Linked DNA regions of Homo sapiens: region 2 is linked to region 1. Evidence: fine-mapped expression QTL. A gene starts in region 1. The other region holds a variant in brackets. All regions are shown on one strand. Distances are between the middles of the regions.

The links. PIP is the estimated chance that this variant, and not a neighbour inherited with it, causes the effect. A credible set is the group of variants that fine-mapping cannot tell apart.
Region 2: its variant is the best candidate, but not a certain one, in a credible set for the expression of SDE2 in whole blood (INTERVAL, PIP 0.81).

Annotation. Positions count from the first base shown.
Region 1 is chr1:225,997,503-226,001,885 of GRCh38, reverse strand. SDE2 (spliceosome associated SDE2) reads left to right here and starts at 2,543. Exons shown (of 7, transcript NM_152608.4): 1 at 2,543-2,693. The coding sequence starts at 2,574. RefSeq lists enhancers at 1,659-1,708, 1,789-1,888, 1,909-2,058, 2,579-2,688 and a silencer at 2,239-2,518.
Region 2 is chr1:226,113,810-226,118,192 of GRCh38, reverse strand. No RefSeq gene overlaps it. Among named protein-coding and RNA genes, the nearest start is that of ACBD3-AS1, 32 kb to the left of the region's middle. RefSeq lists an enhancer at 2,309-3,113. The variant C/A (reference allele first, on the strand shown) is at 2,274.

The DNA.
Region 1 (4,383 bases):
CATTGAGAATAATTAACTTCTACCTTAGTAATCCATCAAGTATCCAACTAATATTTACTTAATATCTACTCTGTACATGTCATGGTACTACACGCTCATTTTGAAGTTTTAACAACAAATTATATATTACTTGGAAATTTGTGTCTTTCAAAAGCTAATATCAATGGTTATTTCATATTTTAAATGACAAATACCTATTCAATACTTGGGATTCTTTAAATAATAGGAATTTAAATGCAACAGAGGGATAAAAAGCGAAAAATTCCATTCAGACATCAGGTTTTATGAGGACTAAATATAATGTTAGTAATAAATGATGTGGAGTTTCCTTACTGGAAAGTACTACTTATGCCAGGCACGGCAGGTCACGCCTGTAATCCCAGCACTTTGGGAGGCTGAGGCGGGAGGATCTTTTGAGCCCAAGAGTTCAAGACCAGCCTGGGCAACTTAGCGAAAAACTCGTCTTTACAAAAAATTTAAAAATTAGCCAGGTGTGGTGGCATGCACCTGTAATCCATCTGGAGTCTGTGGCAGATCACTTGAGCCCAGGAGTTCAAGGCTGCGTGTGCTATGATTGCGCCACTACACTCCAGCCCAGGTGGCAGAGCGAGTGTCTCAAAAAAGAAAGAAAGAAAGAAAAAAAAGACTAATCATAATAATTCCTCACAAGACACGAAGCATTATCCCGACACAAAAAATGTTTTGGAAACCCAAACTGACCTTTATACAGTTACTTGTAGGATCTCAGACCTTTGAAATGGTCATTTAAAAAAATTATTTATTTATTTGAAATAGTCATTTTTGATCACCAGAAGGAAGAAATCACAAATAAAAAAAGAAGAGGCTTAAGGCTCAGATCTGTAGATTACTTTTTCAGGAACCTGGAGGACAGAGAGCTGGGGAGCAGACTGCAGAGGGACTTGAGGTTTCTGGAGTTTGGACGGCTTACATGTAACCTGGCGACACCTTCACGCCCCAGGGTTGCCATGGCACCACCTTTCCGAAATACTGCTTCCTAGGTACAATATATCTTTTTTTTCTGAAACGGAGACTCTCTCTGTCGCCCAGGCTGGAGTGCGATGGCACGATCTCAGCTCACTGCAACCTCTGCCTCCCGGGTTCAAGCGATTCTCCTGCCTCAGCCTCCTGAATAGCTGGGATTACAGACGCGCACCACCACGCCCGGCTAATTATTGTATTTTTAGTAGAGATGGGGTTTCACCATGTTGGTGAGGCTGGTTTCGAACTCCTGACCTCGAGATCCGCCCGCCTCAGTCTCCCAAAGTGCTGGATTACAGGCATGAGCCACCGCGCCCGGCCAGTACAATCTATCTTTATTATTTTTTTTTTTGTAATTTTTATTTATCTACTGGCATCCCCATGGAGGCCCTTTCTCTCCCCAACTTTCCCTCGTGTGTGAAATAAAGACCACTGAATCTATTAACTTCCCAGGCCTTGAAATTCCATTTTCGCACATACTGCCACCGCTAAACGATTTCTGAATTTTTTGTTGTTACCCCCTCAGCTAGGAGTTCCATTTGCCAAGCATTTTAACAGCAGAGAAGGCAATTCTGTGGGCCGATGCATTTGTGTTTAGCAGGCACAGATATCTCCAAATAACCTTCCTATCTTCACACTGGTGGCTTTTGAATTGTTCAGGGTTTTAGAAATACCATAATCTCATTCTGTTAAATATTAAGGGACTCTTTCGGATTCCCTGAGCCTTAAGGTTACGTTATGCAAATCTGTCCGAGTGTGTTTCCATGGTGCAGAATAAAAGTTATGGTAGGGTTTTTTGAAGCAGCATGACTATAAACGTCACTCCTGTCACTGCCTTTCACAAGAGCCCACTTGCTGTGAAATATTTTGAAAACAGAGCTGAAGTGGAGATAACGCAGTGCACAAACAGGCGGAAATAAGAATAAACCGTGCGTGGCAGGCAGAAACCCGGAGGTTGGCTGTTTCTGGAGGGGAAGAGAAGGCTCTGTAAAGCTGGAGGAGAAACCACGCCGGCCACTGTTTAGGGGCCTCCTGGGGGTCGTTTCCCTTGCCCCCTCGGGTTGGGGAGCTCCTCTAGGCCAAGGAAGCGGCCCCCTAAAACCGCTTCCGGGACTGCAGCTTCTCTCCCCACACTCTCAAGGAGCAGAGCCTTCTCGGGCCACAATTCTCCGCGACCCAAAAATAACTACACAGATGTGAGGAAAAGGGCCAAAGCCTACAGCACAAGGTGGTTCTCAGTTAAAGCCTTATCGCTTACGGCCAGGAAGCTCGAAACCTAACCCAGCGCCAGCCTTTTATAGCCGGTCCCTCGAGCCCCGCCCTAGCAACTTCTCCTAGCAACGCCTCGCCCCGTGCTCTGCCGCCTTATCTGCCTCCGCCAGGCCTTTCCTGTTCCCCTCCCCCAGCCCGCACCGCCCCGCCGCCCGGCTCACTTGACCCGCCCCAGGGGAGGGGAGGGGTGAACGGAAGCGTGAGGGGCGGGGCGTTGGAAGATGCTCGCGTCATCAAGAGGCGCCGGGCGAGTTGCGGCGCCTGGTGTCTCAGAGAGGCTTGAGGTTCGGGTAGTCGGTGACATGGCGGAGGCCGCGGCGCTGGTGTGGATTCGCGGCCCTGGCTTCGGGTGCAAGGCGGTGCGGTGTGCCTCGGGTCGGTGCACCGTCCGGGATTTTATCCACCGGCACTGCCAAGATCAGGTGAGGATTTCGGTTCCTGTTAGGAAGGAGAAAGAGGCAGACAGGTGGCAGCGCTGGGTGCGGAGTAGGTCTGTCCGGGGCGGGGGTACGTTTATTCTCTGGGGTTTTCACTCGTTGAGGCTGAGAGTTCCTCAGTGTTAAGGTGCTTCGAATTGTTACTGAGACCTTCCTTTGCTTTTCTTTTGTGGTGGTGGTTTTGCCTTCCCACCAAGAGGGAGAAAAAAACTGTTACAGGCACTTAGTCCCGCTCACAGTTACAAATACTTTGTTTCTCTTTCTTTATCCGTAAATATAATGGTCTTCTGGCAGTTGGGCCGGCTGATTTTTAAGGCTCCAGTCTTCACCTTCTTACTATGGTTATGTGACGTGTATTTTGTCCACTCATCACACAGCCTTGTTAGCCCCAGCCTAGAGAAGTATGTCATATCCAAACCCAGGCCAAAGGATGATTGGGAAGGAAAATTGATTCTTCTGGTCAGTCGTTGTGACCAAGCATTCACACGTGTGTCCTGTTGAGGGCCTGGGTTCTTAGGGCCTGTTACGTAGAAGTGTTCACTATTAATTTGATGGTCTCATTTGTCCGTGCATATTTGTGAAAACCTACCAGGGACTTCCAGAGTTACACGTGAGCTTTTACTGAACTTTCAAGTAAGTAAGCTTTTACCAGCTATAAGATATTAAACCTGTTCAGTTGTCAAAAGAATTTAGTGGTTTCCCTGAATCTAATTTTAATGTTGGCACTTGATCTAGAACTCTGTTCTTTCCGCACCTCATCCGTGCTTTCCTCGGCTATTTCCTCTGCTTACTATTTATAAGCTTAACAAATGTTAACACTGCAGTCTAGACCAAAATTTTAAGAGACTTGGATCGATTCCGTGAAGAAGCAATGTGTGTTTGCAAATAATACGGTTTTTCACTTTCCATGTTTTCCTTCCTGCTCTGTAATCCAGTCTAAAAACTGTAAGCACAACTGTTTTTGACCATGAAAATAATTGCATTCTAATTCCTTTGAAAATAATTCTTATTTCATGAGTACAGTGTTCTTTTCTCCCCCTCCCCCACCCCCGACGGAGTTTGACTCCCGTTGCCCGGGCTGGAGTGCAATGGCGTGATCTCGGCCCACTGCAACCTCCGCCTCGCTGAGTTCAAGCGGTTCTCCTGCCTCAGCCTCCCAAATAGCTGGGATTGCAGTCGCCCGCCACCATGCCTGGCTAATTTTTGTATTTTTAGTAGAGACGGGGTTTCACCACGTTGGCCAGGTCTTGAACTCCTGACCTCGGGTGATCCGCCCACCTCAGCCTCACAAAGTGCTGGGATTACAGGCTTGAGCCACTCCTCCCGGCCTATGAGTACAGTTTTCAAACTTGCTGACAATTGATCCAAAGTGAAACCAGAAAAAATAGGATCTTAATCATGAGGTATGTTGGAAAAAAGAATTTTTAAATCGGAAGCAAGAAATATAGGCCAGGCGTGGTGGCTCACGCCTGTAATTCCAACACTTAGGGAGGTCGAGGCGGGCAGATCACCTGAGGTCAGAAGTTCGAGACCAGCTTGGCAACATGGTGAAACCCCATCTCTCCTAAAAATACACAAAAATTAGCCAGGCGTGGCGGCAGACGCCTGTAATCCCAGCTACCCAGGAGGCTGAAGCAGAAGAATCATTTGAACCTGAGAGGTGGAGGTTGCAGTG
Region 2 (4,383 bases), 120 kb before region 1:
TGTCATCTGGAATACAATTGCCATTTGCCCCCATCCAAAGGGAAAGAGTGGACCCCACCCCACCTCCTACAGGATAGAGTCCAGCCCTCAGGAGTTGCGTGGTGAGGGCAGTCAGAGAGACCCGCTGTGGAGACTTTGCAATACTTGAGGTCTCTGGTCACCCTGAGGGCTGAGTGAGCAGGCCTTTGGGACTCTGGAGGATGAGGCCCAAGCCAGGACACTCCTTGCTTTGCTCCTAGCCTCTCCCAGGTTCCCACGTCCCTAGACCCACTCTGGTCCTGCCCTCCTCTGGCCTTGGCTGTCACTGTCATCTGCGCCCATCAAGCTAGAGCGCTATAAGGCAGTCTCATCTCCAGGGCTGGGGCTGGAGGTGCTCCTGACAGGCAGCTTCATTATCCCACTGGCAGGGAAATGTTTGCTGCATACCTGGGAGCCTAAACCTTACAGCTGGAACACAGGGCTGCACAGAAGCCAGGTTGCTGGGGGCTGGGGAAGGGAGGGGAGTTGTCCCTCAATACCCTTTGGCCCCTTCAGAATGTTGAGCTACATGAATGTTACCCAACAAGTAAATAAATAAAATATTCATAAAAACTGAGGCATACAGCCGTGTGCAGTGGTATACATCTATAGTCCCAGCTACTCGGGAGGCTGAGGTGGGAGGATCGCCTAAGCCCAGGAGATGGAGGCTGCAGTGCGCTATGATCATACCCATGAATAACCACTGCACACTCCAGCCTGGGCGACATAGAGAGAACCTGTCTCAAACAAACAAACAAACAAAAAAAGTGAGGCATGCAAAGGAAAGAACATCACTCACAACATCCTGAATTGCGGGTGCATGGGGGAAGCTGGGGTGCTCATCCCTCAGAGCACAGTATCTGTCTACCAGCACTCTCCCCTTAGCTCCCAGTTAACACTGGTTGGGGCACTCAGGATATTGTCTAAAAGTTAATCACGGGCCGGGCGTGGTAGCTCATGCCTGTAATCCCAGCCCTTTGGGAAGCCGAGGCAGGTGGAAGGCTTGAGGTCAGGAGTTCAAGACCAGCCTGACCAACATGGTGAAACTTCGTCTCTACTAAAAAACAAAAATTAGTCAGGCGTGGTGGCAGGCACCTGTAATCCAAGCTAGTCGGGAAGCTGAGGCAGGAGAATGGCTTGAAGCCAGCAGATGGAGGTTGTAGTGAGCCAAGATTGCACCACTGCACTCCAGCCTGACTGACTCCATTTCAAAAAAAAAAAAAAGAAAAAAAAAAAAGAGAGAGTTAATCACTTAAGGCTAGCCCGAGTTTCTTGTCATTGAGAACCTTGTCTTTGTTATCTCTTTCCCCAAGGCCCCTGCCTGTGGACCGTTGAATATATTTGTGAAGGGGAAGAGAAGGGAGAAGGCCATGTAGAATTGGCCTGGGAGCAGAAGTCATCTTTCTATGGGAGCAGAAAGACCCCCATTTTCCCTGCAGCACCTCAGCAGGGGAGCATGTGCTTCTGGGCTGTGCCTGAGGTCCTGGCATCCTTTTTGTTTTGAGACGGAGTTTCACTCTTGTCGCCCAGCTGGAGTGCAATGGCACAATCTCAGCTCACCGCATCCTCTGCCTCCTGGGTTCAAGCGATTCTCCTGCCTCAGCCTCCCGAGTAGCTGGGATTACAGGCACCCGCCACCACATCTGGCTAATTTTTGTATTTTTAGTAGAGACGGGGTTTCACCATGTTGGCCAGGCTGGTCTAGAACTGCTGACCTCAGGTGATCCACCTGCCTCAGCATCCCAAAGTTCTGGGATTACGGGCATGAGCCACTGCGCCCGGCCCAGGCATCCTTCTTGACTGTGGCACTAAGGGCCCGAACACGGCTCACCCTGACCCTCCTCTGAGAAGGAGGGATTAGTGGGTAAGCGGCCTCACACCCTCAGTGGTCTGGAAGGCTGCAGGCATGCGAAAGTTTGCATCACACTCAAGAGAGACCAGAGAGGGCCCTAGCTACCCACACATGCGGAGGAGAACATCGTGACTGGCACACTGCAGAGGAGACAGGAAAGGGCCTGGGGGAAAGCAAAAGCAGCATCAGACTTGTAAAGTTGTCTGGACTTTGAATATGTTCCTCACAATCTACACACAGATCCATTAGCAAACAGTGGAAGCTTTACTGGCTCAAATTGTTTCTCACAACCTCTGACCAATCACTGGCTTCCAGGGACAACCCTTAGAAAGTCAGGCTTAACTCTCCCTCTCCCTCCACCTCCCCCTCCCCCTCCCCTCTTTCCACTGTCTCCCTCTGATGC[C/A]GAGCCGAAGCTGGACTGTACTGCTGCCATCTCGGCTCACTGCAACCTCCCTGCCTGATTCTCCTGCCTCAGCCTGCCGAGTGCCTCAGGCGCGCACCGCCACGCCTGACTGGTTTTCGTATTTTTTGGGTTTCGCTGTGTTGGCCGGGCTGGTCTCCAGCTCCTAACCGCGAGTGATCCGCCAGCCTCGGCCTCCCGAGGTGCCAGGATTGCAGACGGAGTCTCCTTCACTCAGTGCTCAATGGTGCCCAGGCTGGAGTGCAGTGGCGTGATCTCGGCTCGCTACAACATCTACCTCCCAGCCGCCTGCCTTGGCCTCCCAAAGTGCTGAGATTGCAGCCTCTGCCTGGCCGCCACCCCGTCTGGGAAGTGAGGAGCGTCTCTGCCTGGCCGCCCATCGTCTGGGATGTGAGGAGCCCCTCTGCCTGGCTGCCCAGTCTGGAAAGTGAGGAGCGTCTCTGCCCAGCCGCCATCTCATCTAGGAAGTGAGGAGCGCCTCTTCCCGGCCGCCATCCCATGTAGGAAGTGAGGAGCGTCTCTGCCCGGCCGCCCATTGTCTGAGATGTGGGGAGCGCCTCTGCCCTGTCGCCCCGTCCGGGATGTGAGGAGCGTCTCTGCCCGGCCGCCCCGTCTGAGAAGTGAGGAGACCCTCTGCCTGGCAACCGCCCTGTCTGAGAAGTGAGGAGCCCCTCCGCCCAGCAGCCGCCCCGTCTGAGAAGTGGGGAGCCCCTCCGCCCGGCAGCCACCCCGTCTGGGAAGTGAGGAGCGTCTCCGCCCGGCAGCCACCCCGTCCGGGAGGGAGGTGGGGGGGTCAGCCCCCTGCCTGGCCAGCCGCCCCCTCCGGGAGGTGAGGGGCGCCTCTGCCCGGCCGCCCTACTGGGAAGTGAGGAGCCCCTCTGCCTGGCCGGCCGCCCCGACCGGGAGGGAGGTGGGGGGGGTCAGCCCCCCACCCGGCCAGCCGCCCCGTCCGGGAGGGAGGTGGGGGGGTCAGCCCCCCGCCCGGCCAGCCGCCCCATCCGGGAGGTGAGGGGCGCCTCTGCCCGGCCGCCCCTACTGGGAAGTGAGGAGCCCCTCTGCCCGGCCACCACCCCGTCTGGGAGGTGTACCCAACAGCTCATTGAGAACGGGCCATGATGACAATGGCAGTTTTGTGGAACAGAAAGGGGGCAAAGGTGGGGAAAAGATTGAGAAATCGGATGGTTGCTGTGTCTGTGTAGAAAGAGGTAGACATGGGAGACTTTTCATTTTGTTCTGTACTAAGAAAAATTCTTCTGCCTTGGGATCCTGTTGATCTGTGACCTTACCCCCAACCCTGTGCTCTCTGAAACATGTGCTGTGTCCACTCAGGGTTAAATGGATTAAGGGCGGTGCAAGATGTGCTTTGTTAAACAGATGCTTGAAGGCAGCATGCTCGTTAAGAGTCATCACCACTCCCTAATCTCAAGTACCCAGGGACACAAACACTGCGGAAGGCCGCAGGGTCCTCTGCCTAGGAAAACCAGAGACCTTTGTTCACTTGTTTATCTGCTGACCTTCCCTCCACTATTGTCCTGTGACCCTGCCAAATCCCCCTCTGCGAGAAACACCCAAGAATGATCAATAAAAAAAAAAAAAAAATAAATAAATAAATAAAAAGAAAGTCAGGCTTAAAAATAAAAACAAGCAGGCTGGGCGCAGTGGCTCACACCTGTAATCCCCGCACTTTGGGAGGCTGAGGCAGATGGATCATTTAAGGTCAGGAGTTGGAGAACAACCTGGGCAACACGGCGAAACCCTGTCTCTACTAAAAACACAAAAATTAGTTGGGTATGGTGGTGCACACCTGTAATCCCAGCTACTCGGGAGGCTGAGGTGGGAGAATCGCTTGAGCCCAGTGGGGTGGGGATGGAGGCGGAGTTTGTAGTGAGCCAAGATTGCACCACTGCACTCCAGCCTGGGTGACAGGTGACAGAGTGAGACTCTGTCTTAAAAAATAAAATAAATAAATAAAAACAAGCAGGAAAACTACTGAGCAGATCAGCGCCCGGAATAAAGGTTACTAATATTACAATAATATTTTCATTAGAACGTTCTAATTATAAAAATAAAACTTGTTTTCTTAAAAAAGAAA